Homo sapiens: one gene and its partner. Each later gene encodes a partner of the first gene's protein in a complex. Each region holds a gene or a part of one and is shown in the gene's direction. Other genes may lie near its edges. The genes, in order: ETAA1 and RPA1.

Region 1 (5,525 bases):
ATTATCTTGGATCACACATAAGATACACTGACACTAACAACAGCTGATGAACTAAAAAAAAAAAAAAAAAAAATCACAAAAGAATCTCATAATGTTGTAAAAAAGTTTATGAATTTGTGTTGGGCTGCATTCAAAGCCATCCTGGGCTGCGGGTAGCTTGCGGGCTGCGGGTTGGACAAGCTTGCTTTACATGATAGCCCAAACTAGATATTTTGAAATATTAAAAATTGTTCTCAATCTATAATAATTTTAAGTATTTAAATTTGTATTAAAGTGAGCATATTGTAACTAAATCAAGCATGTTCCTAGCATGACTTTATTTACAGATAGAGTTGACCCTTGAACAGTGTGGGGGTTAGAGGCGCTGATCTGATTTGCAGTCGAAAGTCTGTGTATAACTTTTGATCCCCTAAAAACTTAACTGCTAATAGCCTGCTGTTGACCAGAAACCTTTCCGATAACATAATTAATTAATACATATTTTGTATGCTCTTATATGTATTATATACTGTATTCTTACAATAAGCTGGAAAAGTGTTATTAAGAAAATAAGGAAGAGAAAATAATATTTACTATTCATTAAGTGAAAGTGGATCATCATAAAGGTCTTCATCCTCATGATCTTCATGTCTAGTAGGCCGAGAAGGAAGAAGAGTAGGAGTTGGTCTTGCTGTCTCAGGGGTGTCAGATGCAGAAAACAACCTACAAATGAGTGGACTTGCCAGTTCAAGCCCATGTTGTTCAAGGGTCAACTATAGTTATAATTCTATAAAAGACTAAACCTCCTGGAGTATTTGAGTTTTCCCAAAACTCCTATCTACCAATCTATCTGCATTTTTTATGGATAATCTGCGTTTTAGCTTACCTTATCAATATTTTCTTTAAACTTATTGATAGTACTGAATCTCTTAATTACTATTAACTTTGTTGATGTTTTCTATTGTTTCTACTTCCTTTTACTTTGGTATGTAGCAAGCTGCTCTCCAGGGAAGTATCTCTGAAACAAAACTCACTTAACTCCCACATTTATTTCAGGCAGGAGTTGGCAAACTATGATCTGTCCAAATCCAGCCTGCAGCTTGTTTATGTATAGCCAGCACACTAAAAATGATTTTTACATTTTAAATGGTTGGAAAAAAATTAAAAGGAGAATAATATTTCATGACATTTGAAAATTATATGAAATCCAGATTTCATTGTCCATAAACAGGTTTTATTTGAATACAGCTCATCAGTTATTTATACATTATCCATAACTATTTTTGCTACAGTGGTACAGGTGAGCAGTTGCAACAAGATACTCAAAGGTTAACATTCTTGCTTTCTGACTCTTTCTTTACAGGAAAAAAAAAAATTACTGACCCTTGCACTGTAAGATCAAGATTAAGAAGAGCAGCTTTTGCTTAGTACTTTACAATATTTTAAGACTTCATTGTGTATTTTTATTATAGATTGAGTTAAAGGAAAGACTGATGGGAAAAATGGATGAGTCCCTAAATCAAATTTTCATGGTGTGACCTGATTATCATTTGAAATTATTTTCTATAATATTGCCAAGCAAATTGTAAGACCAACTTTAGGAAGTTATGTTTTCTGCTGTTACAGATTATTAACCTGTTTTCTTTCCACACAGTCAAATTCAGTGTAAAGTCTTTGGATGTGTAGTCTGAGTTTGTTGTGTTTCTCAGCTTTGAGACTAAAAGTATTAGATAATTAGTCAAGCTAATTAGAAAGTATCTTCTGGTGTCTCTCTTTAGGAAAAAATATCTACAGTCTGTTAGGTAAATAGCTTAGGAAATAAAAGCCATCAAAATCATCTGGGAAACTTATTTAAAATATGTATTTCTTAGCCTGAATACCCCCTCCCATTTCTGATTATACCAAGAAAGGAAAGGGAGGCAGATTATATATTTTGAAAATGCCTCTGTTAGTTAACAAGAGAAATGTCTCATAAATTGTGTATCTTTTTCTAAATGTCAGAATAAATGATATACTTAAATATGTATTAGGGTGATAGTCTTAAACTTAAAATATCATTTAAATGAGAAAGTGATTTCTAATACAAAGCCTCAACTTACTAAGTTAATTGAGATTATTTTAAAGTTTCTCCAAAATGCATCCTCCAAATAAAAATATAATTTCTGACAGTGAATCACAGGTAACCAGTTTGACATGACAGATTTCATTTTATCACTCTAAAATATATTTCCTCAGTGGATGAAATGAAAATTTTATAGCTCTATAGGGAAAAGTAGATGTGAATATTAATATAACATCTTATGTAAATATACACTGTTTGAGATTGATAACTAATTTAATTCCTTATATTTTGACTATTTTCCAATTAAAGTTTACATAACATTTTAAATCCCAATGTATCCTTTTTAAAGATATATTTATTCGTGGGTCATATAAATTAGATGTCATTGTCCACAAGAATTATTTGGTGGGTAGTCAGTTTTCTATCAAACTGAATTTTATCACACTGTGAAAAGAATGTATCAAATAGAGACAGATCCATCAGTGCTTGATTTTCTTTTGAACTGGAGCATTATATCTGTATTATGTACTTAGAATTTTATATTCAGTAGTTTAGTTTGATTTAATAGCCAACTAATATGGCAAATCTGGGTGATTAAAAAAAGCAAAAATTAAAGCACATATTGAATGACTTTATAGGCTATAAAAGTAAAACTCATCTTTTGTTGAATTTTTAGAGGAAGAAGAGAAAAATAGAAAGTGTTCTCCTGAAGAAATTCAGAGAAAAAGACAAGAAGCACTGGTTCGGAGAATGGCTAAAGCACGAGCCTCATCTGTAAATGCAGCTCCCACTTCATTTCTTTAATGAAATATTAGTTGGAAGACTTCACGAAGACTGCTGATAACTATCTGTGATTGATAGGAAATTTTTTTTCTTGATTTCTCTGTGAGAAATGTAATGCTGACTTTTATAAAGCCTGGACTTCTACTTTATTTAATAAATCAATGTTTGCAATGGTAAATGAAACATTTCCTTGGACATGTATTTGAAAGTCATTAAATACAAAAGTTTTGGAAATTCAGGAAAGTTAGCAATTATGTACGGATATTATACAGAGGAAAGTAGTTATATTTTTAAATGCTATTATTGCAGAGGATCATCAAAAAAGAGGTAATCTACGTTATTTCCTATTCTAATGTCTTTTCCTAATAAAAAACTTCAACTTTCTAAGTTAGTAGAGACTGTTTTTGTAGTTTTACTTTCATTAACTGTTGCTTAAGGTTTTTATACACTTCCAGATTTTAATTAATACTTTCATATTTCTAGGAACATGGTTGATATGAAATAAAGGACTTTTTATTTGTAAGGAAATTATGTTCAGTTCTTAGAAGTGGATTTGAATTTTAATAATTCTAAAATGTGACACATTTTGGAAACTTTCCACCATATTTAGGAAAACTTTGATTTTAGAAGTCTAACATAGAGGAAAAGAAGTAGTGGATTGTCTACAAAAGTAATGTGGCATCATTAACATTTAGAACTGGCAGAAACTTCATATGTCATCTGGTCCAGCTTCCTTATTGTATCGGTGAGAAAAAGTAATACTGTTTTCAAAGTCATAGGCAAGTTAATGCTGTGCTACAATTAGAATGATTTATTTGGACACCTAAACAATTATACTATTTGTTTCAAAGTATCAGTACATAAAATAACTTGAGGGAGTATTATTTTCTAGTATAAAACAAAAGATGTAATTAAAAGCACAATAAGGACTGTTTGATAATAATGCTCATTGTTCCTTATTTTGCTTTAAAGAATTAGTCTTTCCAGGATATAAAAATGAGAATCTTTTTTCTTTTCAGTTTTTCTGTAACTGTAATTTTCCCCTCAATTAATTTACTTAGTTGACTCATCTTTTCTTCTCTATTACTGTTTTGTTTTTTTCTTTTTTTGCCATTTTGCCTATTTGGAATTTGCTAAACCAGTAATAGAAGTCCAACTAGAGGGCGTAAGGCAGGGAGGATGCTTTATTCCTCTTAAATGGTTTTAGGAGATCTAGAGAAAGTTAGAGATATGAAACACCTGTCATGGTGTGGCATTTATCACTATCAAGTGTCTCAAAGCTGTGATAATATGGTAGTTACTGCCCTATAGCTATACAGATACTCCTCAACTTACCGTGTAGTTACATCCCAATAAACCCATCATGAGTTGAAAATACCTTAAGTTAAAAATGCATTTACTACACTTAATCTACCAGACAACATAGCTTAGCTTAGCCTACCTTAAACATGCTCAAATCACTTATATTAGCCTAGAGTTGGGCACATCATCTGGCAATACGGCACACTGTAGAGTATCAGTTGAGCTGATGCCCAGCATCGTGAGAATGTTGTACCACATATCTCTAGCCTGGGAAAGAATCAAACTTTAAAGTATGGTTTCTATTGGACGCATATCACTTTTGCATCACGTTAGAGTTGAAAAATTGTAAGTCAACCATTTTAAGTTGGAGACTGTACATCAAAAATGGTATTTTCATATCTACAGTGGAGTACTGGAGTTTAGCTAACCTATATTATTTTTCCAGGAATATATAATAACCTAGATAAATGCAAGTAGTTTCTATGTACAAAAATAAAGAGCTGAGAATCTTTTACTAAAAGTGGCTTCACTGTGTTCTGACTATGCTTTGGATATCTCTGTCCTTGCTTAAGCTCCTCCCTGCTTACTGCTTGCTTTTTTAAGAGTACTTTTAGCCTATTCTGTTCATTCATTTAGACTCAGCCTAATAAGTCTGTTTGAACCTCGTACCTAACCATCTTCACTGGAATTGATTGCTTCTCTCTGATCATAATGGTACTAATTATTGTGTCTTTCATTGAGCAATACTATAATGCCTTTATGTGTTGTTTAGTTGTATAAATCTTATTTTATAATTTGTCATTTTGTGTCTCTGGTAATTCTGCCAAATTCTTATACAGCTCATAGTATTATTTACGTAATAGTTTTCTCTAAGTGACTCCCTTTTTTTAAAAAAAAAAAAAAAAAAAAAACTTTTATAGCACTTCTGGGTGGTGGCAGGTGTAATGGCCCTGTACATCTGAACCTCACATGACTGGTTTTTAGGGTCACTGCTCCTGTTCATACCACTCTCCTTTCCTATCCTGACTCTTCCTTTAGCCCTTGTTGGAAACATTAGGGGGTGAATGGCCCATAAATGAGCATGCAGAGGGCTGACTATATAGTTTGCCTGGCTTTTCTCTTTCCTAGTCTATAGGGAATCTGGGGAAGGGACAACTGGTAGCCTGGCAATTTCCCCCTAAAGTTCCGCTGCTGTTTCTGCATCTCAGACTGATGCTAATAATGCCATTATTTCCAAAAAGAGCCTGTTGAAAGCGGAGCTTATCTCTCATTCATCTTTTTCTGTTATAGACAGATGACTCGGACCCCAGGAACATTGGGGTTGCTTACTGCAGACAGTGGTATGCAGACATGTATCCTACCATGGGAAACACTGCCTTATATACTACCCTATTATCAC
Region 2 (7,268 bases), on another chromosome or scaffold:
TGATATTTTTAGCCAAATTCTATTCTGAAGAAATGTTTTGATGTAGAGGGTATGAAATCACTGAACTAAATTATATTTTCTGAATTTGGACGTTGAGTTTTGCAGATACGTGGTGCGTATAAAAGAACTCACCTGATTCCCTGTTCTTTCCCAGCGCAGGGCAGCTGCTTAGGTTTGGATTAAGGAGGCGGAAGGGTCTTAGTGGTCACCCACTTAACATATCTTGACCAAAAACTGATTCCTGCCCTTTGCACCCGACGAAACTCATTCTTACAGACTTCATTCTAGACTTGCTAGTCCTTCAGACGCATTGAGATCTGGGAGTTGTCTGGGGATTTGGAGGCGATCTATTTGTGATAGGTCCCTTACATCCTGTCTTTCTTCATGTGACTAGTGCCTTGCCATCAGTTTTACCAGTTACAAAAGTTGATTTTCTTTTTCTCACCCATTATCTTGCCCGTTGAGGCAAGAGAAGTGTTTAAGAGGGCGGCCTTCAGAAACAGCAGTGTCTGGATTCGTCACCATTATTACTTTGACCTCGGGGCTGACATCAGCAAACATAGCAGTGAGCTGCTGTGTGCGCAGCCTTCATCCTAGATTGCTTTTGTAGCCTCCAGCCTCAGTCTCTATTTGATCTGCGTATCTCTTGCATATAAAAAGGAAAAGCTTTGCCTCTCATGTTATATGATTTCACTAGTGGCACCTCCAAAATTTAGAGTTATTGTAAAGCTTACTATAAAAAAGCTAAGTAGAATAGTAATAACTCCTTTTCGTTTGCGTTTGTTTTTAAAGGTTCTACTGTTTCTAAGGCTTATGGTGCTTCAAAGACATTTGGAAAAGCTGCAGGTCCCAGCCTGTCACACACTTCTGGGGGAACACAGTCCAAAGTGGTGCCCATTGCCAGCCTCACTCCTTACCAGTCCAAGTGAGTTGTTGCATAGAGTAAGTTCAGAGTGTACTTATGAAATCGGAGAAGCTATTATGGACTCTTGAGTTATTTATGCGTGAACTTCAGGGTCACCACCAAATACCACCAAATAGAATGGGTTTACTCTTTTTTTTTTTTTTTTTTGCTGAGGAGGAAAGGGGTACAAATTGTGGCAAACTTTTAACTCTTGTTGGAAAATATAGTAACAATAGCAATCTGCCATAGCCTGTGGGGTTTCATTCATTTTGAAAGAATTTGAAATTAAAAATACTTAATGCTTAATCAGTTGATAGTCTTATGAGTAAAAATAAATATTTCTGATAATTCAAAAGGCATTTAATCTTCTCCTATAAACAGGTGACTTCGTCTTTGGTTTAGTTGGCTAAAATAATCTGCACTATTTGTATTAAACACATGAACATACCCTGAACATAAATTTCTTTTATATGACTTTTTTCCACCAAAAATTAATTTGAAGCCGGGCGCGGTGGCTCATGCCCGTAATCCCCGCACTTTAGGAGGCTGAGGCGGGTGGATCACCTGAGGTCGGGAGTTTGAGACCAGCCTGGCCAACATGGTGAAACCGTGTCTCTACTAAAAATACAAAAATTAGCCAGGTGTTGTGGAGCACGCCTGTAATCCCCGCTACTCAGGAGGCTGAGGCAGAAGAATCGCTTGAACCCAGGAGGCGGAGGTTGCAGTGAGCCAAGATTGTGCCACTGCCTTCCAGCCTGAGTAACAGAGTGAGATTCCGTCTCTCAAGATAAATAAACAAAATAAAGTAATTTGAATAGTTAAAAATTAGAGTTCTTTTTTCAGAATCCTTCCAGATATGTTTATATTTATTCTTCAATACTCTGTAACGTAGGAAAGATATTTTTCCCTGTGAAATTATAAGTGGGGTACCTAATGTGCCCTGTGCCTCCTTTTTCCATGCTTCTCTCTAAGGTCATGCTGCTTCAGTGTGTTCTTCCTGATGGTCCACCAACATCGTGTATTCTATTCAGGGTGTGTTACGAATGAGACAGAAGTGTAACACCAGTTATATCAGTTCCCATAATTGAAAACTGTGGCAAAATATAATTGCTGGTGTTACTGTATTTTCCAGCTTAGAACCTTTCATTAAGGGGATATGGTTGCCTTGGTGATGCTTTTTGGAGAAGGGAGAGAGTTTATAAATTTACTTATTTGACAGGAGAATGAGTTAGTATTAAATCACTTTGCATGTTTTACTATTTGCTTATTCTGTAAACTGTCAAACCCATGTGTCATCTTGGGGTTTTAATTAGCTGGATTAAAATACAGGTTGGAAAACGGAATATGCGTAAGACGAGAAAGGCTGTAGGAAGATGATTTCTTACTTGATCTTTTCCAAGGAAGACCCCATACACTAATATGATCGATTTGGTTTGTAGGTGGACCATTTGTGCTCGTGTTACCAACAAAAGTCAGATCCGTACCTGGAGCAACTCCCGAGGGGAAGGGAAGCTTTTCTCCCTAGAACTGGTTGACGAAAGTGTGAGTGTTTGTCATGCTGGGGAGTGAGGGCAGTGGGCTCGCCGGGAAACAGAAGGCTCAGCTCTGCGGAGGGCAGTGGGCTCGCTGGGAAACAGAAGGCTCAGCTCTGCGGAGGGCAGTGGGCTCGCCGAGAAACAGAAGGCTCAGCTCTGCGGGCCTATGAGGTGAAGAATAATAGTAGGCCAGAGAGAAGCATGATTGTTATTGTGCTTTTCCCTCTGTCATAGTCTTTTGATGCTGTCTGGAGTAGAGGGTTAAGGTCATAAATAAAATCTTTGATCTTAAATGACAGCGTTTGTAGCAGTAGAAAGTAGTTTTCTAAATATATAAGTAGCCTCCTGGGCAGGAGAAGCTGGAAACAGTCTGATTTGCTGGCAGGTGTACTGGAAGCACTGGGAGGTGATGCCTGCTTGTGAGCGCCGTGGAGCTTTGGGACACAGCAGAAGGCACACAGTTGTGACCTCGATATGGGAGTGGTTTTGTGGGAAATGGGTTCTGACTGTGCAGATTCTCTATTTGCTTTATTTAAACTAAACAAAACCATGACGATGAGACAAAATTCCTATGCCATGGAAGTACGACAGTCTTGATAGCTGTTAATCAGTCCATTCGTTTTGCTAATAATTCCTGAAATTGCCGGGTGTGGTGGCTCACGCCTGTAATCCCAACACTTTGGGAGGCCAGGGTGCACAGATCACTTGAGGTCAGGAGTTCGAGACCAGCCTGGCCAACATAGTGAAACCCCGTTTATACTAAAAATACAAAAATTAGCTGGGTATGGTGGCAGGTGCCTGTAGTCCCAGCTACTTGGGAGGCTGAGGCAGGAGAATCAATCGCCTGAACCAAGGAGGTGGAGGTTGGAGCCAGCCAAGATTGCACCACTGCACTCCAGCCTGGGCGACAGAGTGAGACTCCATCTCAAAAATAATAATAATTCCTAAAATGTACTTCAGCATTCTTTTCAAAGTGCTGCAGATTTCCTGTTTGTTCAGACTCCCAAATAGGGAGAAAAAAATAGATGTTTTTTTTGGAAGTTGATATAACACCCAAAATGTTTGTGTGATGGCAGAATCAATATTAGAACCTAATTTTTTTTTAGAAATTATTGCTCTAATGTATGGTGGTTGGCTAAAATTTCTTGTCCACTTGTAAATTTTGGCTGACAGAAAAGCAAAAGTGAAAATCAGATCACAAGCAACTTGCAAACATGACTTACTCTGACATTTTTGGCAATGGCTCCGAATGTGAAGTGGTTTGTCACTGAGAGGGCACTGTGGAGGGAGCCGGTGAATCACCCCGTGGCAGCACCTTCCTCGTGGGCTCTGGGCGTGTCCCTCAGTATTCAACTTTTTTTGTTTTTATTGTCAGAATAAATTAAACTCGTCATTGCCGTTTTGTTCTGTTCTGTTTCTCAGTTGAGGCTAATGCAGCATGATTATGGGATCGGCTAGCTGAAATTCTCATTCTTCAGCGGGGCCAGTGACTTCAGTGTGTGACTGTAAAATGCGGGTTCCTGGGATGTCCGTAGCCCTCTCTGGACCCTGTTTGTGCAAGGGCCACTGCTCTCAAGATGTCACTTTGGTGCTAGGGTGGCCTGTGTTCTATCCCAGTGTCACTTGGGTGCTGGGGTGGCCTGTGTTCAATCCCGCAGCCCTAACCTGCCCACGTGCTTCTGCAGGGTGAAATCCGAGCTACAGCTTTCAATGAGCAAGTGGACAAGTTCTTTCCTCTTATTGAAGTGAACAAGGTATGGCCGTGCTGACTTTAGAACTGACACCGCCTGGGGGTGGAGTGCGGATGAAAAGACGCTGGCCCAGGGGAGGGGTGTGTGGTGGCAGACTAGGGGTTTCTGTCCGATTTGATGGTAGTCTCAGGTTCTGTGGCTTGGCCTCCTTCGCAGGTGTATTATTTCTCGAAAGGCACCCTGAAGATTGCTAACAAGCAGTTCACAGCTGTTAAAAATGACTACGAGATGACCTTCAATAACGAGACTTCCGTCATGCCCTGTGAGGACGACCATCATTTACCTACGGTTCAGTTTGATTTCACGGGGATTGATGACCTCGAGAACAAGTCGAAAGACTCACTTGTAGGTAAGCTCGTGTATGAGAAGGAAGAGCAGGGATGACTAGCTTTCTTTGCAGTGTACGGGGTGGTGTCAGGCTTCAGTGCTTGCCGTTCATCATTTGCTGGCGTCGGAATGGGAGTCTTGACCACCTCCTGCTAACACGTGCATGTGTTTTAGACATCATCGGGATCTGCAAGAGCTATGAAGACGCCACTAAAATCACAGTGAGGTCTAACAACAGAGAAGTTGCCAAGAGGAATATCTACTTGATGGACACATCCGGGAAGGTGGTGACTGCTACACTGTGGGGGGAAGATGTAAGTGCTGGGATGGGGTCTTCAACACGCACAGGACCTCCTGGGGTTGGGGCGTGGTCTTGTCCTATAGGATGGGGCCTTCAGCACACACAGGAGGAGCTCCTGGAGTTGGGGGAGGGAGTGGTCTTATCCTATAGGATGGGGCCTTCAGCACACACAGGAGGAGCTCCAGGAGTTGGCGGAGGGGGCATCTTGTCCTATAGGATGGGGCCTTCAGCACACACAGGAGGAGCTCCTGGAGTTGAGGGAGGGAGGGGTCTTGTCCTATAGGATGGGGCCTTCAGCACACACAGGAGGAGCTCCTGGAGCTGGCGGAGGGGGCGTCTGTTCCTATAGGATGGGGCCTTCAGCACACACAGGAGGAGCTCCTGGGGTTGGGGGAGGGAGGGGTCTTGTCCTATAGGATGGGGCCTTCAGCACACACAGGAGGAGCTCCTGGGGTTGGCGGAGGGGGCGTCTTGTCCTATAGGATGGGGCTGTTAGCACACACAGGAGGAGCTCCTCGTGGGGGCGGTTTTGTCCTATGAGTTGGGGGCTTTCACCATGTAGATGGGAAGGATTGTGCTGTCTGGTAAGTATTTAAAATCCTTTATCTTACTTCTGTGAGATTTGCTGTGATTCAAGCTTTACGCGGGGAAATGCTCTTTCCCCTAACTCTAGGAAAGCAGTGATAGTTTTGATGTGTCTCTGAGTAGATTCTCATGTGTGAGGTCTGTCTTGTATGGATTCCATGTACGCTGATTACATTCACTCTACTATTGAATGTTTGCCTTGTTTTCTATAAAAATCTTCTGTGTTCTTCCTGCTAGTGACACTTGTATATGTCTGGTGTTTCTTTTACAGGCTGATAAATTTGATGGTTCTAGACAGCCCGTGTTGGCTATCAAAGGAGCCCGAGTCTCTGATTTCGGTGGACGGAGCCTCTCCGTGCTGTCTTCAAGCACTATCATTGCGAATCCTGACATCCCAGAGGCCTATAAGCTTCGTGGATGGTAGGTTTTGTGGGGCTAAACAAAGGGTTACTTGAGGCTGGGCTTTGAGAAAAGCTGGTTACAATCAGCATGGGAGCTTTCTGCCAAGCAGAAGCCTTCGTCCCTGAGTGGTGCAGCTTCCGTGTTTCTTGAAGGCATTATGCCTTCTGTGAGGAGGGCTTTAAAGCCCTTAAACGGACAAACCTGTAATCCCAGGACAAACCTAGAGAGTCGGAGGAGGCAATTAGCATGTAAGTGCTGCCTGCTGACCTCGATCCTGCCAAAGGAGGGGACGGCCAGGCTTCAGCAGCGGTGTGCTGAAGGCGCCTTTCTTTCCAGGGTTTAGGCTCTGGGCCTCTGTGGCGTGGGGGAACACATGCTTTCTTTCTCTGTCAAGTCTTTGGTGCCGATCACATCTTCTAGTGTGTATTCACTAGACTCTGATCAAGTGTGGTGAGAACAATGGGCTTTTTGTTAGGATTAGATTGTTATTCCCAAAGCACTCAAGGGATGAGGAGAGCCTGTTAAAATCTCCTCACTGTATCTAGCTTTTTAGGACATTCAAACTCTGTCTTAAAAGAGTACTTCAAACTGAGACACAGGATGCAAGAATTGATGTGGTCAGGGAAAACACTTTCACCCAAGCTTCAATAATTCCCATAGCTGTAGTCTATGGGGGGGAAGTGTGTCAGTTTCCAGCTGTGTCTTAGGATTTAAGCAGCTAAAGAATGAGCTCATTTTACATACTCCTCCTTTGTTTTGAGTCATTTAAACCAATGGCACTGGTGTTTGACCAGTTTCATGAAGCATCTTCTGGAATGTTCATGTCACTGAGCCATCCTCATGAGTAGTACGGTCCACACGTATCTGCCGAACTGCAGGGCCCGTTCATAGTCTGACCAGAACTAGCCACAGATTTGCTTTTTTCTTATTGCTTGATTTTCTTTTAGGCTCTGGAGTTCGACTCCAGGTTAATTGCATTCCCACATTAAAATCGCATTCCCACATTAAAATTGCATTCCCACATTAATGTCTTCATCTTTTACTTGTCAATAATCATGATCCCAGTCAACATAAAAAGCACGGCTGTCCCCAGAATAAAATAACTTGGCATTGATCAAAGACAAGCTCAGTGCATACATGATACCTGGACAAGGATTAGAGATGTTTAGATCTTGGCTATAACAATGCAGAGTTTTTATTGTAAGAAGGGCCGCCTTGACTCCTGACGAGTGATCTTTGGTGGCAAATGTCTCCTTGGAGCTTTTGAAACCGTGAACTTGTGTAGCTAGTAGTGGTGAAACAGATGGATGGGCCTTGCTGTGCCCCTGTGAGGGATTTAGCCGCTTACCTGACAGGAGAAGGCAGCTGTCTGCAGCTCAGGGTAACATCCATTCTGTTAGATGGTCTCTGTTTAAGGAACCTGTTCTTTGTGTGGTTACCCACCTTGGGATGGTATTTGGCCT

What was found.
Region 2: the proteins of ETAA1 (region 1) and RPA1 are in contact, whole or in part, in a crystal structure (PDB 8JZV), measured with the Homo sapiens proteins. Residues at the interface, in NP_061875.2 of Homo sapiens: Thr599, Trp600, Glu601, Ala602, Asp606, Asp607, Leu609, Leu610, Tyr611, Ala613, Cys614, Asp615; in NP_002936.1 of Homo sapiens: Arg31, Ile33, Thr34, Pro39, Arg41, Arg43, Ser54, Ser55, Met57, Asn85, Leu87, Arg91, Arg92, Val93, Ile95.

What each region holds. Positions count from the first base shown.
Region 1 is NC_000002.12:67,407,194-67,412,718, forward strand, and holds the end of ETAA1 (ewing's tumor-associated antigen 1), read left to right. Parts: intron 1-2,717; coding exon 2,718-2,845; 3' UTR 2,846-4,896; downstream 4,897-5,525. UniProt on the Homo sapiens protein: Replication stress response protein that accumulates at DNA damage sites and promotes replication fork progression and integrity.
Region 2 is NC_000017.11:1,874,869-1,882,136, forward strand, and holds part of RPA1 (replication protein A 70 kDa DNA-binding subunit), read left to right. Parts: intron 1-792; coding exon 793-925; intron 926-2,343; coding exon 2,344-2,446; intron 2,447-4,124; coding exon 4,125-4,193; intron 4,194-4,346; coding exon 4,347-4,539; intron 4,540-4,691; coding exon 4,692-4,831; intron 4,832-5,674; coding exon 5,675-5,823; intron 5,824-7,268. UniProt on the Homo sapiens protein: As part of the heterotrimeric replication protein A complex (RPA/RP-A), binds and stabilizes single-stranded DNA intermediates that form during DNA replication or upon DNA stress.